Linked DNA regions of Homo sapiens: regions 1 and 3 are each reported to be linked to region 2. Evidence: microRNA targets listed by miRTarBase, many of them from high-throughput screens and not tested one by one. Region 2 holds a microRNA gene; each other region holds the end of a gene's coding sequence.

Region 1 (4,000 bases), not on the chromosome of region 2:
ATCAGCAGTCTGCCCACTGCAGACAGGACAGTGTCAGGAATCAGGGCATTGGCCAGAATCCACAGATACCAGCCCCCACCCTCAGCCTGGGGGTGGGCTAGGGAACCCCAAGAATAGCCCTCTTACAACAGACCTGGACCCCTGGCACACCCCTGGGTCCAGATGCCATTTCTCTAGTCAAACCAATAAAACCCTGTTTCCCCACAGGCAGGCCCTACCCTCCAGGCTCACCAAGACCAGGTGGCGAGTCAGGACAGGGTGGCAGCGTGGGAGCCGTGGGACCGGGCAGGGCACTGGGGACCTCAGGGAGCCCGGAGCTAGAGGCGGTGGCGTTGGGCCGGGAGCAGTTGCTGCTGCTGCTGCTGCTGCTAGCAGCTGGGTGGAGGGCATGGGCAGGGCCTCGGGCACTGAAGCGGCTGAAGAAGGCCAGGTGCTGGGCGTAGACGTCAAAGTAGAGGATGACGGCCACGAGGAAGTGCAGCAGGCAGAGAAGGAGCACAGCCTTGCAGACGCGCTCCAGCGTCCCCCCCAGCAGTCTGCTCATCCCGCAGGCGGCCACTGGCCCGCCCAGTGGGCCCGGGCATCCGGCTGCTGGCCTGAGCAGGGTGGGAGGGAAACAGATCCAGCAGGTCAGGGCAGGACAGGCAAGGCTGCCCACCTACCTCCCACTCAGCTGCTCACACTCGTGGGCCACACCTCACACTGACCTGCTCATACCCTTTCACACTCACAGACTCAAGAATTTACCTCCAAACAGACACCCAGGCACAGTTCCCGGCAACTCAGTACTCACATCCTCAAGCACACCCCACTACTAAGCCACATACATTTACCTTCCTCCACCTCACTGACACACACACTCAGGCACTCACCCTTATTGCACAACTCTACACACACACTCACGCATTCCCAGGAACACAGACACGTGAACTCTAACCACACTGGTTTGTACCTAAGCATGGAGACATGTTTACCTATAGACCCCCATGTGCCCCTGTGCCCCTGAGAACAGACACCTCACATGGCAGCATCCTTAACCCAGAACTCATGGCTTGGGGAAGAGGGAAGAGACGGAATACTGTGCACCTACCATGCAGGAGCACTTTATACTCATGACTTCATTTAGTCCTTCCAGGAGCCATGGTGGGAAGTGGTTTGGTCATTCAGATCCCAGCGACAAGCAGGCCAGGCCAACTGGGACCAGGCTGGGAAGTTGCCCTCAGCATCCGGGGGGCCCAAATACAGACTGGATGTTTACAGAATCCCTTCCCACTGGAGCAAAACGTCAAAATACGGGGCAAGGCAGGGGACACCCCTCACTTAAGACCTCAAAGCCAGCCCCTTGGGACTGGGACCAAGACTCTGGGTCCTGCCCAGCACAGCTGGTTCTGATTCCCGGAACGGGATGCTTGGGCCTGGAGATGGGCACAGCACTGGGCATGGCAGGAAGGGGGTCTTGCCTGGGCGATGGCTCCAGCTGTGGTTCCAAGAGAGCGGCAGCCACTTCTGGCAGTGCTTCAGGGAGCAGGGTGAGTCTCACAGGCACACAGAATCACAGGGACACCCTGGTCCCAGCTGGTCACCCACACTCAGACACACAGAGAACTACAGTCACAGACACACCCGGGTGACAGTAACACACTAAGTCCCACACTCACAAACAAGGCCACTGCTCCTGGACTTCCACAGCCATACATCCAGACTCTCAGACAGCTCACACCCAGACCCACGTGCAGACATTCCCACCCTCCCTCCGGCGCAGGGGTTCTGGGTCAGGCTGGCGGCCAGGCTGAGGGGTGCGTTTGGGCGGGGCTGGCAGGCTGAACACGTGGCACCCGCGGACGGGCAGGCCGCACAGACCGGGTGGGTGTGGAGCCTGGGGGCAGGGGGAGTGGGTGGAGGGCAGCGGATGAGGCAAAGGCCAAGGGGAAACGTGTATGGAACGCCTCCCCGCGCCACGAGGCCGGGGCGAGCGAGGACAATGAGGGAGGCCGGCTGGACGCGGGCGGAGAAGCCCAGGAGGGGCGCCGGAGTGGGGGCGGGGTGGGGGCAGCCAGGCCGGGGTCTGGCCGCCGGCGCCTCTCTCACCGGCTCCTGGGTTGGGATCTCGGGGCCGCGCTCGGGGTGCCCCTCGCGGGGCTGGGTCTGGAATCTCGGGGCCCTGGGTGGGGGCCGCGCGCGCCCTCCTCTCACCCGGCGCTCGGGGCTCAGCAGGGGACGCCGCTCCGACTTGGGCAGGGCTCCCGGCTCCGGCGGCTGCGGACGGTTCCGTCCCCCATGGCCCGGCCCCGCCGCCTCCCGCCGCCCGGTCAGCGGCCACCGCGGCCCCCGGGTCGCCTCCCGCCGCCGCCGCCGCCGCCGCCGCCGCGGGCCATGGAGCCGAGCCGCCCCGGGGGGCAGGGCGGGGCCGGGCGGCCGGGCAGACCCACGGACCGGCGGACCCACGGACCACAGCGCCGCCGCCTCCCTCCCGCGCTACGGCGCCTCGGAGGGGCAGGCCCGGCCCGCGCGCCCGCGCGCGCGCCCCCGCGGCCCCCGCCTCCAGCACGCCCGCACCCGCCGCGCGCCGCTGCGAGCCCGCCCTGCCGGCGGCCGAACCCGGGCACCCAGGAGGCACGGACCTGGGAGCGCGGGAGGAAATGGGTCAGGCTCGTCCAAAGGGTGGGCTTAGAGGTCGGACCGGCGAGCGGGTGCAGACCGTGGAGTCCCTTAGCGGGGAGTGGGGATTGCATTGGAGCGCGAACTCCCCAGGAAGGGGACCTGGAGGTTGGGCGGACTCAGGCTGCGGGGCTAGGGATTTGTCAACTCTTTAATTGGACCAAGATTCAAGGTCGGCCAGCAGAGAGGGGGCAGGACCCTTAAAGGCGTGGGCTGGAGGTGGCTGGGGCTTCTGGGGTAACAGGAAACAGGGTCAGGGAAGGAGAAAACGAGATTGGATGGGGTGGGAGGAGCTGCCCTGGGCCCTGGGAACAAGGATCAGAGTAGAGGTTTCTGGGAGGGGCTGCTGCTAGAAGGACAGGACCATCACTGGAGGCAGAGACCACTGCCTAGGCTCCAGGCCTCACAAGGACGGAGATGATGGTGCCCGACTGTACAACCAGGTAAGTAGATGCTGTCAGACAATTCGGGCATGGTGGTCAGTCAGAGCCCTGAGCAAACGGGCCTAGAAGGACTACAGGCACAAACACACCCAGGGGCCCCTATCTGCACACTCCCTCATCCCCAAACAAGTCTGTTTGGGGGTTAGAGTCCACCCAGCACCCGTGCCTCCCCACCTAGGAGCAAGCTCTGTGCAGATCAGAAGTGTGCAGTCAGAAAGCTGACAAGGGATTGGCATGAGGCTGAGGCGTACAGGCCTCTTTACCCTTCCTCTGTGAACGGTGACGCAAGAGGGCAACAGAAGCTGCACTGACCCAGACAAATACCAAGTTTATTTCACAAACACTAGGAAGATGGGTTGAGGGTGGAGGTGGGGGACACAGGTGCGCAGCTGCACAGAGTCAGCAGCAGCAGCCTGCTCCCCGCACTGAGGACTCGGCCTGGACTGCAGTGCCTCCAAATCAACACGCAGCAAGAGGGGAGTGCAGGGAGGGCCCTGAACACCAAGCCTCTGAAAGGCTAAGGGACACAGCTCCAGCTGTCCCAGGAAAACCAGCAATAAATAAAAGTGAGGCACGGCCCCACCCACACATATCATCTAGTCACCCATCTTCACTCTGGAGGTCTGCAAAAAAAGAACAGGAGAAATCAGGCAGGGACAGAGGAATAGGTAAGGCAGTGACAAATGATAGAAGATGACATCTAGCACATGGTTGGATGGACAGACCACAAGAGATATATGACTAACCAGGATGGACACACTGTGACAGACAAGGCAGACAGGGACAGACAACCACAGAGTTACGCTGTGGGACAGACGGAGAGAAGTGGCATATGGATAAAGCTAGTCACTAAGAATCAACTCAGTCAAGCACCCACAGTCACACTCAGACCCTCAGGC
Region 2 (4,148 bases):
TTAACCTTTATTTATCCATTATTAAATGCCAGCCCCTCATCCTGCTTAACACCTTATGTGTAGTGTATCATTTCATCAAAACTCTTATTTTCCATTATGTTTTTTTCCCCACAGGTATTTTTTTCTCACTGTAAAAAAAAAAAAAAAAAAAAAAAAAAAAAAGTAGAAAGCACAGGTAAGCAAAAAACAAAAAACCACACACAAAACCACAAACTTTAAGTTACCCACAATCACATTGTTGCCATTTTGCTGTAGGTTCTCCCAGATTTCTGTCCAAGAATGAACCCTCCAGAACCTCCTAGGAGATTCTTTCCAGGTCCGGAGTCCTGGGTTTGTAGTTCAAGCCCCATCTTGAAGGTGCTGTGCAACCTTGAACAGATCCCCCCCAACCCTAGTCTCAGTTTATCCAGACTGCACCTGCATCCTGGGAACAGGCATGGCTGTGCGTTTGATAACCACACCCATTGCCGGTTGGGAGACCAGGTTTTTCTCTCAAGGGAGCCGCAGTCTGTTGCCTTTTGCCACCATTTTGCAAATCAGATCTCAATTCTGGGCCCACCCAGCCACCCCATCCTGTCCCCTCCAGCCTCACCCTGACTTCTCAGCTTTCACTTTTTTCTGCTGATGGGTTGGAAATTGCTACTCTCCTGTTTTCTCTCCACCTGCACTAACAAACCCCAAGTGCTGCCCCCAGCACGAATCCCTGGTTCCCGGGTCCTCTGCCAGGTGCAGGTGCTGCGGCTTCATGTTCAAAGGATTCTGGGCACTGCGCTTTCTCCCTTGATGTGCCCAGCCAGGCTGCGGGGATGGGAGGCTCCTCTCCTGTGCGGCTCAGGCTGTTTTTCTCCCCAGAGCCTTGTGGCCAAGTTTCCGTGGCCCTGTGCTCTGGACCCTGGGCCAGGGCTGTGGTGTGGGCAGCCTTGAGGCCCTGGGTTCCATGCCAGTTCTCGACAGGAAGGCCTTTCATGTGGGTGCCAGCTGGCCTCTGGGCCCAGCTTCGGGCCTGGCAGGGCCTGAGGAGGGAGAGCTGCGAGTGTGAAAAACACTTTCTGTTTGGGAGCTGGTTGGTGGGAAGGAAAGACAAGAGGGAGGGGGACAGGCAGGTCAAAGAGCTTACCCAGGTTTAGAGGAGCGAGGCCAAGGTGCCCCTGTAGAAATGAGGCGATTCGGCCTTTCCTCCCCAAAAAGAGGTCTTGGCAGAGATACAAGGAAGCAAAGTCTGTTGGGTGGGGATGGAAAACACTTTCCCAAGCCTGCCTTCACTCCCTCCCTCCCCCGGGCTCACTGAGCCTAATCAGGTCAAGCACGCAGCTCCCTGCCAGACACTGTGGCATTGTTTAAAGCCGCTGCCTCCCCAGTACCCTCTCCCCACAGAACTGAGTTCTGACAAAGGAGGCCCTGAGGGACAGGGCTGAGAGGACAGAGACCCAAGGTCCAGGGACGCGTCACTCCCCTATGGCTCGCTCTCCTTCCCACTGGTTATTGTTTTTCTACCCTGGACCCCAGGGAGAAAAGGAGCCAGGCCCTGGCAAACCTGAAGGCTGTTTGTGTTGACATAAAGGCACTTTCTGAGCAAACAGCACTGAAAGGTCAGCAGTAACCCCAGGCAGTGCCAGGACTGGGCAGCGGGTTTGGGAGGTGTGGAGAGAAAGGAAACTGTGGGCCACTTGGGGTCGGATGACTTCACCAGAAGAAGAAGAAAAGCCAGCCAGGCTGCAGGGAGGGGGCTTCCTGGAGATGGAGCCCTGGAAGACCTTGGCTACCCCATAAAACTTAAATAGGACTTGAAGTCAGTTGTTTATCTGCTTTCCAGAACACCAATGACATGGGAGAGAGGCTGGCGCCCTAGGCAGGACCCAAGCGAGCCTGGTGTCTGGGGCAGGATCTGCCACTACGCTTGGCTTTCTCACTGTAGGACTCAGTTTGCATGGGAAACCAAAGGAGAATTTCAAGTGTCCTACTCACACATATTCTAGCCTTTCAGGAAACATTTACTGAGCATACATCACCCACCTGATAGGGGGCTAAGCCTGGGAATGCTTTCAGAGATGAGTAGCACAAGGTCTCAGATAAGGTGACCCATTTTCCCCGTTTGCCTGGGCCTCCCAGTTTTAGCACTGAACATCCCTTAGCTCAGGAAGCCCAGGAAACCCTTTGGTTTGGGGCATACTTGGTTGGTTGGTCACCCTAGCATCAGTCATCAAGCAGCTCACGATCTGCAAACAATGGTAGACATACGAGTGATATAATAGAGGGTGCACAGGCATGGGAGGTCAGGTGAGCTCAGCTCCCTGCCTCACCTGAGCTCCCGTGCCTGTGCACCCTCTATTGGCTATGATCACACCACTGCACTCCAGCCTGGGTGACAAAACAAGACCTTGCCACTAAAAAAAAGAGAAAGAAAGAAAAGAAAGAAAGAGAGAAAGAGAAAGAAAGAGAGGAAGGAAGGAAGGAAAGAAAAAGCTACTTTTTGAATGAAAGAATGAAAAAGCATCTCTCAGCTAGGAAATGTCTTGCCATGATGACACCTGTGTTCAATGGGGAGCTACGAGAACATTTTAAAAAAATCTACTGTACTGAGGCATAATTTACATATAATACAATGCATACACTTCAATGTAGACTTTGATGAATTTTAACAAATATATACACTCAGTAACTGTTAAATCAATCAAAATATTTATAGCACCCCAGAAACTTCCCTATTTCTCTTTTGTAGTTAATCCCATCCTAACCATCCCATCCCAGGTAACCACTTACCTGATTTCTGTAACTATAGATTCATTTTAGTTTTTCTAGAACATCATCTCAATGGAATAATACAGTCTGTACTCTTTTGAGTGACTTCCTCTACTCAATGTGCTTTTGAGATTTATCCAAGTTGGTTTGCATATCACTAGTTTTTTTGTTTTTTTTTTACTGGTGAGTATGGATTTATCATAATTTTTCCATGCATTTGCCTATTGATGAACATTTGACTTGTTTCCAGTTTTTTGCTATTCTGGACAATGCTGTTGTGAATAGTATGTACAAATTTTGGTATAGAAAAACATTTTCATTTCTCTTGGGTAAAAACCCAGAAGTGAAATTGCTGGATCATAGGTTAAGTATGTGTTCAGATTTATAGGAAATCACCTAACTTTTCCAAAAGGGTTGTACCACTTCACAGTTTCACCATTAATGCATGAGAGTTCTCGTTGCTCCACATCCTCACAACATTTTGTATTGTTGGTTTTTGAAATTTTAGCCATTCTAGTGGTATCTCAGAGTGGTTTCATTTGCATTTCCCTGATGATTAATGAAGCTGGAACACTTTTTCATGTGCTTACATGGTCATTCATATACTTTTCTTGCAAAATGTCTGTTCATGTCTTTCATCTTTTTTTTTTTTTTTATTTTTGAGGTAGAGTTTTGCTCTGTTGCTTAGGCTGGAGTGCAGTGGTGTGATCTCAGCTCACTGCAACTTCCACCTCCTGGGTTCAAGTGATTTTCCTGCCTCACCCTTCCAAGTAGCTGGGACTACAGGAGCCCACCACCATGCCCAGCTAATTTTTGTATTTTTAGTAGAGACAGGGTTTCACCATGTTGGCCAGGCTGTTCTTGAACTCCTGGCCTCCAGTGATTTGCCCATCTCGGCCTCCCAAAGTGCTGGGACTTTCATCCATTTTTAATTTGAGCTGCATGTCTTTTTCTTATTGAGATGTATGAGTTCTTTATGTATCCTGAAAGCAAGTCCTTTGTCTCATATATGTATTGCAAATATTTTCTCTTATTCTGGGATTTTTTTTCTTTTCATGTTCTTAAAGGGATATTTTAAAGAATAGAGGGTTTTAATTTTGATATAATCCAATTTATCAAAATTTTTCTCTTATGGTTTGTGACTTTCATGACCATATTTCTTAAAGTCACAAAAATTATCTTATGTATTTTTTAAGAAGTTTTATAGATTTAGTTTTTACATTTAGGTTTGTGGTCCATATCAGATGAATTTTTGTGTATTATATGAGGTAATATCAAAGTTTGTTTTTTGCATATAAAAATCATTTGTTGAAAAGACTTTGAAATCATTGGTGTCTTTGGGGAAAATCAATTGATATATATGTGTAAATCTATTTCTGGATCTCAATGTGGTTCAATTGATCTATATG
Region 3 (4,000 bases), not on the chromosome of region 2:
GGCCTGCACTCGGCGCCTCGCTTCTTGGTGGCCTTCGCCTACTGGAACCACTACCTCAGCTGCACCTCCCCGTGTTCCTGCTATCGCCCGCTCTGCCGCCTCAACTTCGGCCTCAATGTCGTGGAGAACCTCGCGTTGCTAGTGCTCACTTATGTCTCCTCCTCCGAGGACTTCAGTGGGTGCCTGGATGAGGGAGGAGTGGGGAAGTGTTCCCTGAGGGGACGGGCCTGCCCCTACCACATTCGGACCTTCCTACTTCGTGGTGTGGGCACTCCCTGCAATGTGGCTCCCAATCCTCTTTCCCTCCAGCCATCCACGAAAATGCTTTCATTGTGTTCATTGCCTCATCCCTCGGGCACATGCTCCTCACCTGCATTCTCTGGCGGTTGACCAAGAAGCACACAGTAAGTCAGGAGGTACGGTCTATCCCTAGCGGGGGCTCCAAGGCAGCCCAGAAGAAAATCAAGGACATCTGTCCTCAGGATTCGGGTAATGGTGAGGTGGGAACTGAGTTCTAATGGGAACCCTGGCAGAGGGGTGCTGGGGTTGGGGCTGGGGCTTGGGAACAAACTGAGGGTGGTTGGTCAGAATCTAGGACTATAGCACTGTGTTTGGGTAGTGTGGGAGACTGGAGAATAGAAGAGATGGAGGCTGCAAATGGGGATAGAATGAGGAGTCGCATCTAGGCGGCAGTGAGTTAGGAACAGTGTCAGAGGACTGGTCTGTCATAATTCCAGCGCCCCACCCATGTACATGGGTTTCTTTTCCCCCACAGTATTTGGAGGTGGGGTTGGTGGGTGACTCCATGTAACTTTCATACTCCATCCCCCTGAAGTGGAAGCGGCAGGAATACCACTGCTCCTCGGCCCATCACTCCCCCAGAGGCAGGGACGTGAACACATAGTCGTCATTCTTGCTGCCCCTGCCTGTGCTCCCTTCCATGACCGCTAGTGGGAGCCAAGGGAGATAAGGCCCAGCCCTTAGGAGTTAGGGCTGAGAGGGGAGCCCACGCTCTCATACCCAGCAAGCTGCAGAGTGATCAGACAGCCCATTCCCTAGGATCGCAAGTCCTACAGCTGGAAACAGCGGCTCTTCATCATCAACTTCATCTCCTTCTTCTCGGCGCTGGCTGTCTACTTTCGGCACAACATGTATTGTGAGGCTGGAGGTGAGGCCAGGATAGGATCCACAGGCGGTCATGAGTGGCTGCGGGGCAGCAATGATGTTTTTGATAATGGGCAATGGTCTTGGGGACTGGCTGCCATTGTGTTCTCTGTGGCAGACCAATGGTGGTGTGATTTATCAAGAGGCCTCTGAGCGGGTAGCTGGAAGTTCACCATGTCCTGTTCCTTGTGTCCTCACAACAGTGTACACCATCTTTGCCATCCTGGAGTACACTGTTGTCTTAACCAACATGGCGTTCCACATGACGGCCTGGTGGGACTTCGGGAACAAGGAGCTGCTCATAACCTCTCAGCCTGAGGAAAAGCGATTCTGAACCCTTCAGTCCTGCTTGGGAGGACGCAGCCCACTGCCCAGAAACAAGAAACACGATACCATTCTGGCCTTCCCCACCCCACATCCTCTCTTGGCCTTACTGAAGATGGGGGAAGGGTAAGAAGGAAGGGTGTAGGCCAAGGCTCACCCCAGTGCTGCTGGCTTCTCCTCTCCACCCCTCATATGGGCGTGGGGTCCTCAAACATCACCTTTACCTGAGAGGCCCCAAGAAGCTGAGCTGGCAGAGAGCTCCACCATTTGGTGCTAAAAAAAAAAACGTCCTGAGGTTCATGACCACCATCCAGTTTCTGGCCTTTACACAGTCACCTTTCACTGAGGTCAGGAGCCCCTGAGCAGTGGCTGCTCCCTGACAACCACAGCCATTTCTCTGCACGGGGGTCATTCATAGGACTAATGTATTTCATGATCTACTGTGCACATCCAGGCCTGTGGCCACAGTCCCCTGCTAAAGTTGCTCAGGTGTTCTAGTCCTGACTTCACCTTTTTGATTTGGTGTGTGCCCTAGGGTATGTACCCTTCCCCATCTGAGCCTCGGTGTGTCCATGTGTCTGGCGGGGGATGGGTGGACTGTATGATTTCCAAGGACTCTACCAGTCAGTGGTTCTGATGTCATCGGGTGGAGGTGGTGTTCTATACCTAAAGGATGACCTGCTCCAGAAACAGCACCAGCACAGCATGTATTTTCTTCTCTTCTGAAAGTTCTGGCTTGTAGACCCCTCCCCTCCTTTGCAAAGGTATGGGATAGAGGGGTCAGATGCAGATCTCTACTGTAAAATGGGCTCCCTGGTATCTCCTGTCTTCCCTACTGCTCCAAACCCTAAATTTTGGTTGTACATTTTATTTGAAAGGAAAATAAATTTTTTTTTTGGGCCAACAGTTGCCTAGGCTTGCTAGTCTTGGGGCTCATCTTGTTTGATAGGAACTGGGAGAGAAACAGGCTCAAGAATGGGGAGGGAGTAAGTCCACGGCAGGGTATGATTCCTAGCAGAACCCCCCAGTCCCCCTTAGGTCTGGAGTCTCCTAAAGCTGGTCTAAGCCTTTATTTTGGTGAGCAGGAGTGAGTGAGCTATCTGTAATGATTCTAGGACTGCAAGCTAGGGTACCTGGAAGTCTTCAGTTGAGACAGAGACCTGGGTTCAAATTCCAACTCTTGTTGTTAAAGCTGTCCTCTTGGGGATGTGAGGTACAGCTGTCACATGCATGACTGTGGGAGCATCTGCCTTTAGACTAATGGCTCTGAACCTCTCCCTTTCTGAGCCCTAAGATCAAGAAGTCTTTCCTCAGGTTTTGTGTCTGAGTCCACTACAGCATCTGTGACTGGGCCCCAGAGCAAGACTGCCCCCTCCAAGGGAGCCTAGAGCTTTGTTAGGGAAATTGAGGGGTGAGGGGACCACAATGAAGCCTATTGTCTACTAGAAGAAACAAAAGGCTCCCAGTCTCTGGGGAGCCCTAGCCCATGCCCACCCGCTAATGCCCAGCACACAGGGAGGAGCCGGGGCCACTGGAGACAGGAGGTTTTATTGATGCTGATGGGGGTAGGAAAGGTCCCCAGAAGCATGGGGGCTGAGTCAGTCAGCAAATGCGTAAGGCCTAGGCACAGAGGAGCAGGTTAGGGCACATTCACCTTCTCAGGATTCTGTGGCTCCCTCATTGGAGAAGGGAGAGAGCATCTTGGGGGCGCAATTCCAAGAGCAGCGAGGGCAGAGGTTAGAGATGGCTGAGAGCCCCTAACCTGAGGCGGCACCACAATAGGCAGCAACAACTGTGTGGAAAGCTGGATGAACTGGTCAGTAGCGGAAAATGGGAGGGGGCACTGGGTTGGCCTCTTGGGGAGGGGTCCAACCTTGGCTTGGATGAGCTCATGAGAATACCCAGTGTTCCCAAGCAGAGGGGGGCAGAGCCCAAAGCCCCTTTCTCTGCAGGCCTCCTTAAGGAGAAAAAGGCACTCAGAGAAAAAGGCATTCAGGGAACCCCCTGGAAAGGGGTGCCAGAATTAGTCCTTAAGGCACAGCTGAGGCGGACAAGGCACCAAGGCACAACTGGTGGGGGGAGGGCAGGGGCAGCCTCCAAGCCAAGTGCCAGGGTCACAAGAGGATGCAGGACCGCCCACGCTTGATCGGCGTGGGGTTGAGCACAGCCCGGACAGCCTCGGCGAACACTTCCTTGACACCATCCTGTTGCAGGGCTGAGCATTCGAGGTAGCGCACAGCGTGGATCTGCTTGGCCAGTGCCTGGCCCTGCTGCGGTGTGATGGGCGCCTGGCCCTGCTCCTTGAGGCGCCGTAGGGTGTCAGGCTGGGCTCTCAGGTCCTTCTTGGTGCCCACCAGCAGGATGGGCACATCAGGGCAGTGGTGGCACACCTCTGGATGCCACTTGTGCCGCACGTTCTCATAGGACGGCGGACTGGCAATGGAGAAACAGATGACGAAAACGTTGGTCTGAGGGTAGGAGAGTGTACGGAGGCGGTCATACTCCTCCTGGC

What was found. Region 2 holds the annotated microRNA hsa-miR-3622a-5p (CAGGCACGGGAGCUCAGGUGAG, at 2,296-2,317, opposite strand). A microRNA usually pairs through its seed, bases 2 to 8, with sites in the 3' UTR of a target mRNA and lowers its output. Matches are read on the target gene's strand: a 7mer-m8 pairs with bases 2 to 8, a 7mer-A1 pairs with bases 2 to 7 and ends in A, and an 8mer does both.
Region 1: miRTarBase lists ATP6V0B as a target of hsa-miR-3622a-5p. Seed matches in the 3' UTR shown: 7mer-m8 at 3,671-3,677.
Region 3: the mRNA of RHOG is a reported target of hsa-miR-3622a-5p. Seed matches in the 3' UTR shown: 7mer-A1 at 3,110-3,116.

The regions. Positions count from the first base shown.
Region 1 is chr1:43,977,705-43,981,704 of GRCh38, reverse strand. ATP6V0B (ATPase H+ transporting V0 subunit b) reads right to left here. Exons shown (of 8, transcript NM_004047.5): 8 at 3,410-3,724. The coding sequence ends at 3,698. B4GALT2 (beta-1,4-galactosyltransferase 2) reads right to left here and starts at 2,495. Exons shown (of 7, transcript NM_003780.5): 1 at 2,194-2,495; 2 at 232-596; 3 at 1-16. The coding sequence starts at 544. RefSeq lists silencers at 2,122-2,231, 2,502-2,601 and enhancers at 2,019-2,610, 2,611-3,201, 3,202-3,793.
Region 2 is chr8:27,699,859-27,704,006 of GRCh38, reverse strand. MIR3622A (microRNA 3622a) reads right to left here and starts at 2,330; the gene lies at 2,248-2,330. It overlaps MIR3622B (microRNA 3622b), which reads left to right and starts at 2,240; the gene lies at 2,240-2,334. LOC124901920 (a long non-coding RNA gene) reads right to left here and starts at 3,037. Exons shown (of 2, transcript XR_007060869.1): 1 at 1-3,037. It also overlaps a transcript of SCARA3 not described here. RefSeq lists a silencer at 728-873.
Region 3 is chr11:3,823,961-3,827,960 of GRCh38, forward strand. It overlaps RHOG (ras homolog family member G), which reads right to left. Exons shown (of 2, transcript NM_001665.4): 2 at 3,018-4,000. The coding sequence ends at 3,603. PGAP2 (post-GPI attachment to proteins 2) reads left to right here. Exons shown (of 7, transcript NM_014489.4): 4 at 1-175; 5 at 310-416; 6 at 1,060-1,168; 7 at 1,368-2,411. The coding sequence ends at 1,498. Among named protein-coding and RNA genes, the nearest start is that of RHOG, 15 kb to the right of the region's middle.